Homo sapiens: one gene and its partners. The protein of the gene in region 1 purifies or fractionates together with the protein of each later gene. This does not show direct contact. Each region holds a gene or a part of one and is shown in the gene's direction. Other genes may lie near its edges.

What was found.
Region 2: the proteins of CEP15 (region 1) and NCS1 purify together in Homo sapiens (affinity purification with mass spectrometry; one large-scale study listed by BioGRID and IntAct). This does not show direct contact.
Region 3: the proteins of CEP15 (region 1) and SERPINA12 purify together in Homo sapiens (affinity purification with mass spectrometry; one large-scale study listed by BioGRID and IntAct). This does not show direct contact.

The regions. Positions count from the first base shown.
Region 1 is NC_000003.12:62,332,522-62,336,021, forward strand, and holds part of CEP15 (centrosomal protein 15), read left to right. Parts: intron 1-733; coding exon 734-868; 3' UTR 869-3,500. UniProt on the Homo sapiens protein: May play a role in ciliary assembly.
Region 2 is NC_000009.12:130,217,224-130,221,074, forward strand, and holds part of NCS1 (neuronal calcium sensor 1), read left to right. Parts: intron 1-608; coding exon 609-747; intron 748-2,501; coding exon 2,502-2,580; intron 2,581-3,851. UniProt on the Homo sapiens protein: Neuronal calcium sensor, regulator of G protein-coupled receptor phosphorylation in a calcium dependent manner. Directly regulates GRK1 (RHOK), but not GRK2 to GRK5. Can substitute for calmodulin. Stimulates PI4KB kinase activity.
Region 3 is NC_000014.9:94,489,625-94,492,469, reverse strand, and holds part of SERPINA12 (serpin A12 precursor), read left to right. Parts: intron 1-2,702; coding exon 2,703-2,845. UniProt on the Homo sapiens protein: Adipokine that modulates insulin action by specifically inhibiting its target protease KLK7 in white adipose tissues.

The DNA.
Region 1 (3,500 bases):
CCTCCCTAGGGCAGTCACCCAAGAAACCAAAGCTAGACACAACACAGCAATGTTTCATGAGCTTCTAAAGCCTATAGACTTCTACAGTCAGACCAATAATACAGCATCTCAACTTCCAAGCTATTTGTATTAAAAATGGTTAAATTATATTGACATTTTGTCATCACAAAAATGGGGAAAAATTATAGTGGATATATATTTCCTACACAATTAAGGGTCCAATATCTCTAATTCCTGTACTATAACACACTAGTTGTATTTCAGTTCCTGATCTCATCCCAGGTCAAATCTTTTGATGTTAATCCTGAAGCATGATTTATGTTTGATAATTTCATTGTAATAATTTCAGTATGGGGTAATCATTTGGTATGGGATTTGGAATATTAAACAAAAACATTTAATGATTATATCACCATAAATGATACTATTAGCAATAATCATGAAGTTGGCCACAAGAGGGCGTGTAAAATCACAATAAAATTCTAAAACCTGTAATTCTGCCAGGCTCTGGTTTTACTGAGAAATTTGAAAATTAACACTAGTAAGTAGCCAGATTTTTTTCTAAAATTAACATAAAATATTCTGTAGAGGAAATGCATTCTACATATATGTGTGTGTGTGTGTGTGTGTATACACGCATACACACTCTTAAGTGAATAAACATTTAGACTATTATGAAGAGCCAAGTTCAATTGCTTGATATGCTTTTTTACTTTTGGATTTTTTTTTCCAGACTCGTTACTGGGCATCAGTAGAAGAATATATTCCCAAATGGGAACAGTTTCTTTTAGGAAGAGCACCATATCCTTTTGCTGTTGAAAATCAAAATGAAGCAGAAAATACCATTCAAAATGAGGCACAGCGATAACTTCTTCACATGCTATTTCAAAAAGCCTGTTTAATAAAGCTGAATGTTAAGGTGTATGTAGGTTATTGCAGGAACTTTAGGAATTAAATATGTTCATATTCTTCGATTATCTCCTAAGTGACAGTGAAGATATGAGAATTTACTGGCAAGTCACATGTTATCACCTACTACTATTTCAAGGTCATGAATTTGCTTTCTACCAAACCCATAGATGTGTTAAACACGAATATTAAAAGGTGGACTCTTTATTAATTAAATTATTGTCAGTGTTGTGAGTGTGTTGCTTTAAAAAAAAAAAAATTTACAATCATTCTCCTCTAAGCAGGTATCTTGGTTCTGGTTTTAAGTTAAGTTTTTTAGAATCCTTACTTTTTAGGGACAAGGTATAGGATCAACATGGTTCTTTTTTTTTTTTAAACCATTATTGTTTCTTTTAACAAATTAAAAGACAATGACACCTAAACTGCTCTAGCAAAATAACTTATGAGAAAATAAATTCATAGGATTTTGTCCCTCACAGATAGCCAAAGCTCTGCAAGTTCTGGAGACAGAAAGAACTGAACTATAAAGCAGTCAATAAGTAGCCAGTTTCAGGAAGACTCAGACTTGGTTTTGAAAAAGGATGCCTTTTAGAGCTGGGAAAGGTTATTGGATTTTGACTTGGTTATTTAAAGATTGCCAACCTTGTGAATGCAAATAACCCCACTCTTGTCTTTTCATCTTTAAACTTCCCCTTCCCGCTTCCTTCTAATTTCATTATTCCTGAAAAAACTGTCAGTCAGAAAGCGTTGGGTCACAACCCTAAACAGCTTTGAGATTCCTCAGTCCACCACTGCTTGAGCACTTAAAAAAAAAAAAGAAAAAAAAAATATGTATATATAACTTTCCAGCTATAGAGGCAGCCTCTGCTAGTAAAGGGTACCTATGCTATATTACAATGAAATGTTTTAAATTTCAAACTGGTTTATGTTTTTAAAAGAAGACAATAGGAAAAGCTAAATACACAGCAACAACAACAACTATATTGAAACGTCCGTTGTGCCGATAAGTTCCTTTAAACTACCATCTTGGAAATATCCTGTTGAGTGGGTGTTGGTGTGGGTAACAATAATGTTGTTTTCATAATATGTGCTGGCAGATTAGCACACTTCTCTACAGTGTTAACAGTTGTAATTAAGGAATAAACAGCACAGGGTGTCAGTCCGATGACAATTTCATCTATAGTGTCACAATACAAAATGTCACAAAATATTAGAACTGTTATATAACTATAAAAAGTATCAGCTTAAAAGCTAAAAGCCTTTGAAAAAAGAAGACAGAGGAAGGAAGAAAAAAGAAAACTGGCATAGCAACCAGAACAATTTTATACCTTCTCAAGAATGTTCTGTCATGAAAATAAATTGATAATTTTTTTCTGTTACATTACAGTTTGGTTTCTAGCCATCCAGTTGATTTAGCAGGAGAATGCAGGTTTTTTTAGCAGCTTTGAATTGGTAAACAGATTTAGATGTAGTAGAAAGGAACATGAGGAAGTTGTTTTTTTTTTTAACATCCAATCTTTCCCAGCATATGCACATAAGAAGGTGAATGAAGCAATGTGAAACTTACTTCTCTTTAGTCAAGTGAAAAAAAGGCTAAACATTTGTTAGATGGTAAAATATTGTGTCAAGCGAGTAGGCAAATTCCAAAATTACACAGTGGTTGATACATTAACATCCTCAAATATTTGAGCATGCACTTCCTTTGAGATCTGTAAATTAAATCACCAGTGGGTTAGATAAAAATACAAAACAAATGGCAATCTAACCATCTCAGAAAAGGTTCAGGTTTTTTTCTCCCTAAAACTGAGAACTTGCTAAATAATTTTTGAAAAGCATAAACGTAATACACCCTGGGTTACGATCGAGGGCAGAAGGGAAGGCATTTCCAAGGCTCCTGCTGTAGTGTTTTTCCCATTTTTGTTAATACCTCAAAAACTCCCAGAGATGACTTTATTCCTGGCCCCTGCAGAGCTCCCCTCCCCACCCCCACCTTGTAGACTGTAACAGATTGCACCACATGGTGTCTGTTTAAAAAAAAAAAAAAAATTCCCATAGGGACCTGGATATCCCATTAATGGGCTTTATGTTCCTCATGGCAAATTAGCTTTACACAGGAATTTCCAAACATTGTTTTCTGTTAAGAAGGGAGGAATACCATATATAATGTATATTTTTTCTACAATTAGTAGGAATCAGACAAGGAAAAGGAAATGTCATCTATTCATACCTTTCTCTCCAAATTCAGTGTTCTTTCCATATGCTCCATTGTACTCCACCACTCTTCTCCATGAAAACTATGAATTTATGGTTTTTTTTTAGAAAAATGGAGTTTTCAAAATGAAAGTCAAATAATTTTTTCCAAAGCCGTTTGTGGACTGTTGCAAATGCATAAATATTCAAAGCTCATTTTCTGCAGAAACACTTCTGGTATATGAAATTATTAAACTGTAGAATGCTAAAGATCAGAAGAAGCTACAGTTTTTCTTTAAACTTGAAAAAAAATTAAGAAGTATTAAGGAAAAAGCTTAATACTCTGGAAACCAGACATCTGGTCTTTCTCATGCGTAGGGAGCAGTGTGAATGAAAGTGAA
Region 2 (3,851 bases), on another chromosome or scaffold:
CTGGAGGGTTTTGTGCTGGGCACTGGGACTGCAGGGTGGACAAGTCCAGTTGGAACAGCCAGGATCCCCCCATGCTGTTTACCCAGTTCCCTGGGAACAGAGACTGAGGGGCAGGGTGTGGGCATGTGGGAGGAGCCACCTGCTGGCTCCATATGGTGGTCTACCCACCAGCACCAGCAGCAGCCCACCCAGCCTGATGCCAGGAGGGGCTCAGCAGAGAAGGTGGGGAGGTGGGAGGGTCTTGTGCAGGCATGCGGCTTTGGGGAGGCCATTCATGTGACTCTTGTTTTAGCCCCCTTGGGTGGAGCACAGGGCTGGGTGGCCAAGTGCTCACTCTGTGTGCAGTATCTGGGTTAATTCCTATGTCAGTTCGTAACCCCCTTATGCAGACGAGGCTAGGAGAGGTGAAGTCTGTATCCAAGGTCACACTGCTAGTGAGAGGCAGAGGTGGGACTGCGCCTGTGCCTATCAAGTCCATGGCCCCATGGGGCACCATCTCTTTGAACAAGGAGCCACAGCTTTCCTGGGCCCCGGGCAGGCGATGTTGGTGGTGGGTGGGTGATGTTGGCGTCTCCTTTACCCTCTCTGGCCCGGTCTGCTGCCTCCAGGTACAAAGGCTTCATCAAGGACTGCCCCAGTGGGCAGCTGGATGCGGCAGGCTTCCAGAAGATCTACAAGCAATTCTTCCCGTTCGGAGACCCCACCAAGTTTGCCACATTTGTTTTCAACGTCTTTGATGAAAACAAGGTGAGCTGGGGATTGATGGGGCCTGCGGCAGCTGGCTCAGCTCCTGTGGGTACCCGCAGCGTCTCCACACCCACTCTCTCCTGCCGATGTTCCCTTCTAGAGAAGGAACACACACACGAGTGCATACTGACATGCACAGATACATAGTCGCACATAAATGCATGCACATGTACACATGCAGACACACAATAAACACAGATGCATCCAAATGCATGCACATGTGTGCACACATATGTACACCCACACATGTACTGACATGCACATCCAAGCTCTCACACAGACGTGTATGTGCACATGCAGGCGAATACCATGCACACATGTGGGCACACATACATGGAGATGCAGCCACACACGTGAACATACATGTATATTCATACAGTGCACAGAAATGCACACATATGCACACAATGCATGGACTTGCAGGTGCACACACGTGTACACACAGAGAGACATATACACATATGCATATGTATACAGTGCACAACACACATGCATGTATACACATGTACACCCTGACACTTCTCTTACAAGCATAAAATGCAAATACCTCCCATGATAATAACAGGATTAATAATAATAACCAATATTTCCTGAACATTTACTATGTTTAAGCTCTTTACATGGATTTTTTTTTTTTTTGAGACAGAGTCTTGCTCTGTTGCCGAGGCTGGAGTGCAGTGGTGCAGTCTCAATTCACTGCAACCTCTGCCTCCCAGATTCAAGCAATTCCCCTGCCTCAGCCTCCTGAGAAGCTGGGATTACAGGCGCCGTCACCACACCTGGCTAATTTTTGTATTTTTAGTAGAGATGGGGTTTCACCGTATTGCCCAGGCTGGTCTTGAACTCCTGACCTCAGATGATCCACCCACCTTGGTCTCCCAAAGTGCTGGGATTTCAGGTGTAAGCCCCCTTGCCCGGCCATACATGGATTATTTTTAATGAGGCCTTACAAGCACCTGGGAGCTGGGTATTTTAATACCCATTTTGTAGGTCAGGAAACTGAGGCTCTGAGAATCGTAGGCTATAGGATCTTTTGTTCCTGGCGTTTTCCACTGAGCATCATGTTTTCAAGACTTACCATGTGGTAGCTTGTGTCACCTCCGGGCAGTGGCTGCACGGATAGCTGTTGGGTTATCTGCGATGACCCTGATTCTGTCCTGCAGTAGCATTTGAGGGTGGATTTACTGCCACTTGTCTCTGTACCCCCTGCTGCTGGCACCGTGGAGGTTTCTATTCTATCCCATCCCCAGCTTCTCCCAGGTGCCCCCAGGCTGGGAGTCACATGCCTGACCCTGGGAAGGGCTCTTCCCTTCTTGGGCCTCGGTTTCTTCATTTGCAAATAAGAGGTGGAATTAAACAACCTGCAGCGGCCTTTCCTCTGCAAAAGCCCATGAGCCCACAGCTCTAGGCCGAGGGGCTTCCGGGCTGTTGCTGAGAGGAGCTCAGGCATTGGTGCTTCTGGCACCTTCTCCCATCAAGAGTGGAGTAAGCCTCTCCGTTCAGCCTCAGTCCTTCTTCCTGTGCCTCCCTCCTGGCCTCTCCCACTTCTAACCCCCCACACAGTCCCCCAGCCTCTGCTCCCCACCCTCTCCTTGCCTCTCGCCCCCCATTCCTTCGAGCCTGCCCTCTCCACCTGAGTGTCCATTGGCCACAGTGTCTGGAGCCTGCGACTGCCCCTCGCCCGTCCCGAGGTTCAGCCTGACCCGGTGGCCTGGCCGGCACTGACTGAGGCAATCCCCTCTCTCTCCTGTCAGGACGGGCGAATTGAGTTCTCCGAGTTCATCCAGGCGCTGTCGGTGACCTCACGGGGAACCCTGGATGAGAAGCTACGGTGTAAGTCCTGCCCCCTTGGCCCTGTGTGGCAGCAGCTGGAGGGCCCAGGTCAGAGGGAGGCAGCCCTCGGCCCTCACCAGGCAGGGGTGCCAGACACCCACTGCAGTGACCACAGATGGCGTCCCAGCTGTGTCTGCAGAGGGCAGGCCTGGGCCCTGGGCAGGTGGCCCTCACACGGCCACGTAACTAGGCCAGGCTGACTGTCCAGGGTTCAGAGAGCAGCGCAGACATCTGTGCTTCCAGGTGGGAGGGTTTCCTGGAGGCACCGGCAGCAGGAAGGAGCTCGCTGAGGCAGGTGGACAGGGAGGGCTGGGGGCAGAGGCTGGCAGGAGCCTTGGCTGCACTCGGGCAGGTGCAGACTTGGGCCGCAGGAGGGTCGGTGGGGACCCAAGACCCAGGTTCAGTGCCGGACCCACCTCTTTCATAGCCATTGCTTTGATTCTTGCTTTCAGTCATTCACTTACTCACTCATTCATTGACCAAATAACGACTGAATGCAGCCACGTGTTGGTACCAGGGATCCACTGGGGGATAAGATAGATGGGTCCCTGCTCTCAGGGCGATCAGTCTAGAGTGGCAGCAGGATTTAAAAAAAAACCTCAGGAAACTGCAGGCAAGGAGGAGAGAGGGAGTTGTGAGCAGGAGAGGACCTGCCTGGTAGGCGCAGAGCTGGGGATGAGAGGAGCTGGGGATGAGAGGAGCTGGGGAGGGGGCGTTAAGGGCTCCAGCCAGGGGGCCCGCGTGTGCGAGGCCCAGTGGAGGGAGGCTGAGAGGGAGTTGGGAGGGGAAGCTGTGCAGGCCCCTGGCGGCATTAGGAGGAATGCAGGGTGCGTGGAGGGGAGGGAAGATGGAAACCAGCTGGCCAGAACTCCCTGCTCAGTAAGACTTTCACACTTCAGTCCATCGGCAGCAAGAAGACCCTGCAGTTTCTTTTTCTTTTTCTTTCTTTCTTTTTTTTTTTTTTAAGAAATAAAAGAGAACTTTATTTATGCAAAAGCTCCTCCTCTCAATGCACTATTTTATTTTCTAATGTTGACTGTAGCAGGCCACACCATAATTGTGGGAGCAGAGTGGACTGTGGGGAGGAGGTGGGGGCTGGAGTTGGGGGAAGGAGAGGGGTGCTCCTCTGGGTAACATCCCAGGCCCCGGGCTCTCCCACGCACTCAGCTCCAGCCACTGATACCTCGGCCCTGGCAGCCCAATGCCCCATCCCTTTATTTTATTTGTTTATTTATTTATAGACAGAGTCTCGCTCTGTTGCTCAGGCTGGA
Region 3 (2,845 bases), on another chromosome or scaffold:
ATGCAAGAAGACAAAGCAGGTGTCTGCCTTCTGTGCAGGCAGGCCTGTATGGCTTGTGCTGGCCTGCAGGAAATCTCAATGCTATTATTTTTCCCAACATAAAAGCTTCTCTTGACCTCTGCTTTCCCCCAGTTATTCCTCCATTTCGTCACTCCCCCTTTGCAGGTGAATACCATGAAGCAGTTGCCTCTGTTCACAGCCCCTAGTTCCTCTCATCCTCTCCTAAATCCACTCCAGTCCAGCTTCTGCACCCACTTCTCACAGAAAGCTCCCTTCCCAGGGTCCCAAGGGTGTCTGTGTTGCAGAGTGCAGTCAGTCTCAGGCCTCGCTCTTCGGCTGGTTTCTGTCCCCACCTCCTTAAGGCACTCTTCATTTGGCTTCCAGCTCTCCACTCTCACATCACCTCCCACCTCTCCCCTCCTCAATCTCCTTTGCTGGAGACCCCTCTCCTCCTCCAGGTCTCAGAGGTGAGTGTCTCAGGGCTCAGTTCCCAGCCTTCTTTTCTGTCTATACTTACCCCTGAGTGAGCTCACAGGCTAAGAGCTTTAAACACCATCTCTATTACCACGACTGCCATGCTTCCATCCCCAGCCCCTGTTCTCCCCCAAATTCCAGAGTCGTGGATCTTTCTGTTTACCCAGAATGTCCCCAGGATGTGTAATTGGAGCTTAGTGTCAACACATCCAGAATGACTTCCTGATCTGTCCCCAGAGAACCTCCCCAAGCCTGCCCATCTCAATCAGTGGTGACTCCATCTTTTTAGTTGCTCAAGCCAAAAACCTTGGAGTCACCCTGACCACCCTCAAATGCCTCATTCAGTCTGTCAGGAAACTCCTTTAGCCTACAGCAAACCACATCTGGAATTTGGTATCTTTCCGCCGTCTCTGTGGCTCCCAACATGTGACTACCACACTAGCTTCCAAATGGTCTCCCAGCATCAATTTTTGCCCATCCCCACTACACACACCACCACCACCAAGAGTATATTCTTAACAGAGGCAACAGAATGATCCTTTTAAATCCTAAGCAAGACTATGTCACTCCTCTGTTCAAAACCCGACAGTGACTCCCCATTTTATTCAGGAAAAAAAACCCCAATTTGTCTAACTCTCTTGCCTGCCTCAAGGTTTGCTCAAACTTTGGACCAATCCTCGATTCCTGCAAGTCAATCTATTTATTTTTTTCCATAGCACTTACTGCCTTCTGCATACCGCTAGTACATGTATGTAGGCTTAAGTGGTACTTTTTGTTGTGTTGATTCTATCACCTGTCTTCCCTGCTAGAACACACAGTCAGGGGCAGGGATCTTTGCCTGCTCTGTTCATAGATGCATCTCCAGCACCTAGAACAGCACCTGGTATACAGTAGAGATTTAATAAATGTTTGTTGAGTGAATGAATGAGTGGAAAGGTAAATTTGGGAGTCGTTGGGCCTGTTGATGATATTCAAAGCTGTGAGACTGAATGACATGTATGGGGATGGAGTGAAGGTGGAAAAGAGAAGGGGACCAAGGTCTGAGCCTGGAAGCAGCAGTGTCACCGGTAGAGATGGGAGGGGTGGAGCCCGACAGGGGCAGGAGTGGTGGGGAAGGAGGAGAAGCCTCAAGGGGTGGACCTGGAATGCTTCACCTTGGAGAAAGGGATTACCATCACGTGCGGCTCACTGAGAGCTGGCTCTGGGACGTGGGGCTGGTTGTCAACGGTGACTCTGGAAAGAGTTGCTTCCATAAAAAGTTGAGGTCAAAGAGCCGACTGGAGTGGACTGAGGCAATTGTGGGAGGGAGTGGAGATAGCTGCTATAAAAGGAAGAAAAGAAATGAGCTGGAAGCTGGAGAGGCTATTCAGGGCCAAGAGAGATCTCTTGGTGTTAGTTTTTGAGGATAGGGTCACTCTAGCATGAGGCCTCCTCCAGAGGAGGATCAAAGGGGCACTGTTTAAGGATGATGCAGGAGAGAGAGGACACATAGGCAGGAATGAGATCCTTGGGTAGGTGGGAAAATAGGGTGCAAGGCCAGGTGAACGGGAATCCAGGGTCTGCAGGTACCTCAGGAGAGCCTGGGCCCCAGGCTCCGGGCAGGAGGCTGATCGCGGTTCAGCCACAGAGGATGTGAAGCTGCTAGTTGGAGGGCAGGAGGATGGGCACCTGCTACGCACCAACTGTCTGCTGAGTGCCTTGTCTGCATTTGCCTTAGCACCCCTAGTGTCCCGCAGGAGCGACGGTGATCATTTTCCTTCTCACACAAGTGACTTAGAGAGGGAAGGTCACAGAGCTCATGAGAGGCAGAGTGGATTTGAACTCAGTTCTGTCTACCTCCAGATTCTGGGTGCCTTGTTCCCTCCAGTGTCAGGTCTTCTGGGGTCAGGATGGGCTCAGGGCTCAGGCATGGCAGCGACTACAGTGTGGACATCATCAGTGACTGTGGCTGAAGGGGCTCTGAGACGGGGGAACTTGAGACTTGAGAACACTCCCTGTAGAGGGCTCTGGGGCAGGTGTGCTGGGAGGCAGGGACACGGTTCAGAGAGCTTATGGTGTTTTGAAACCAGGGTCCCAGGGTTAAGGAGCCCCTCCTCATTCTGTGGATGGAGAGAGATTGGAGACCTTTGGGGCTGGGAGGACACATGTTTCATTGGTCATGTATCCTGAGGCTTGCCCTGCAACACAACAGGACTTGACCACTCACCCTTGTCGTGTCAATTCCCCAGGGTCGTAGACGTGTCTGTACCCAGACTCCACATGACGGGCACCTTCGACCTGAAGAAGACTCTCTCCTACATAGGTGTCTCCAAAATCTTTGAGGAACATGGTGATCTCACCAAGATCGCCCCTCATCGCAGCCTGAAAGTGG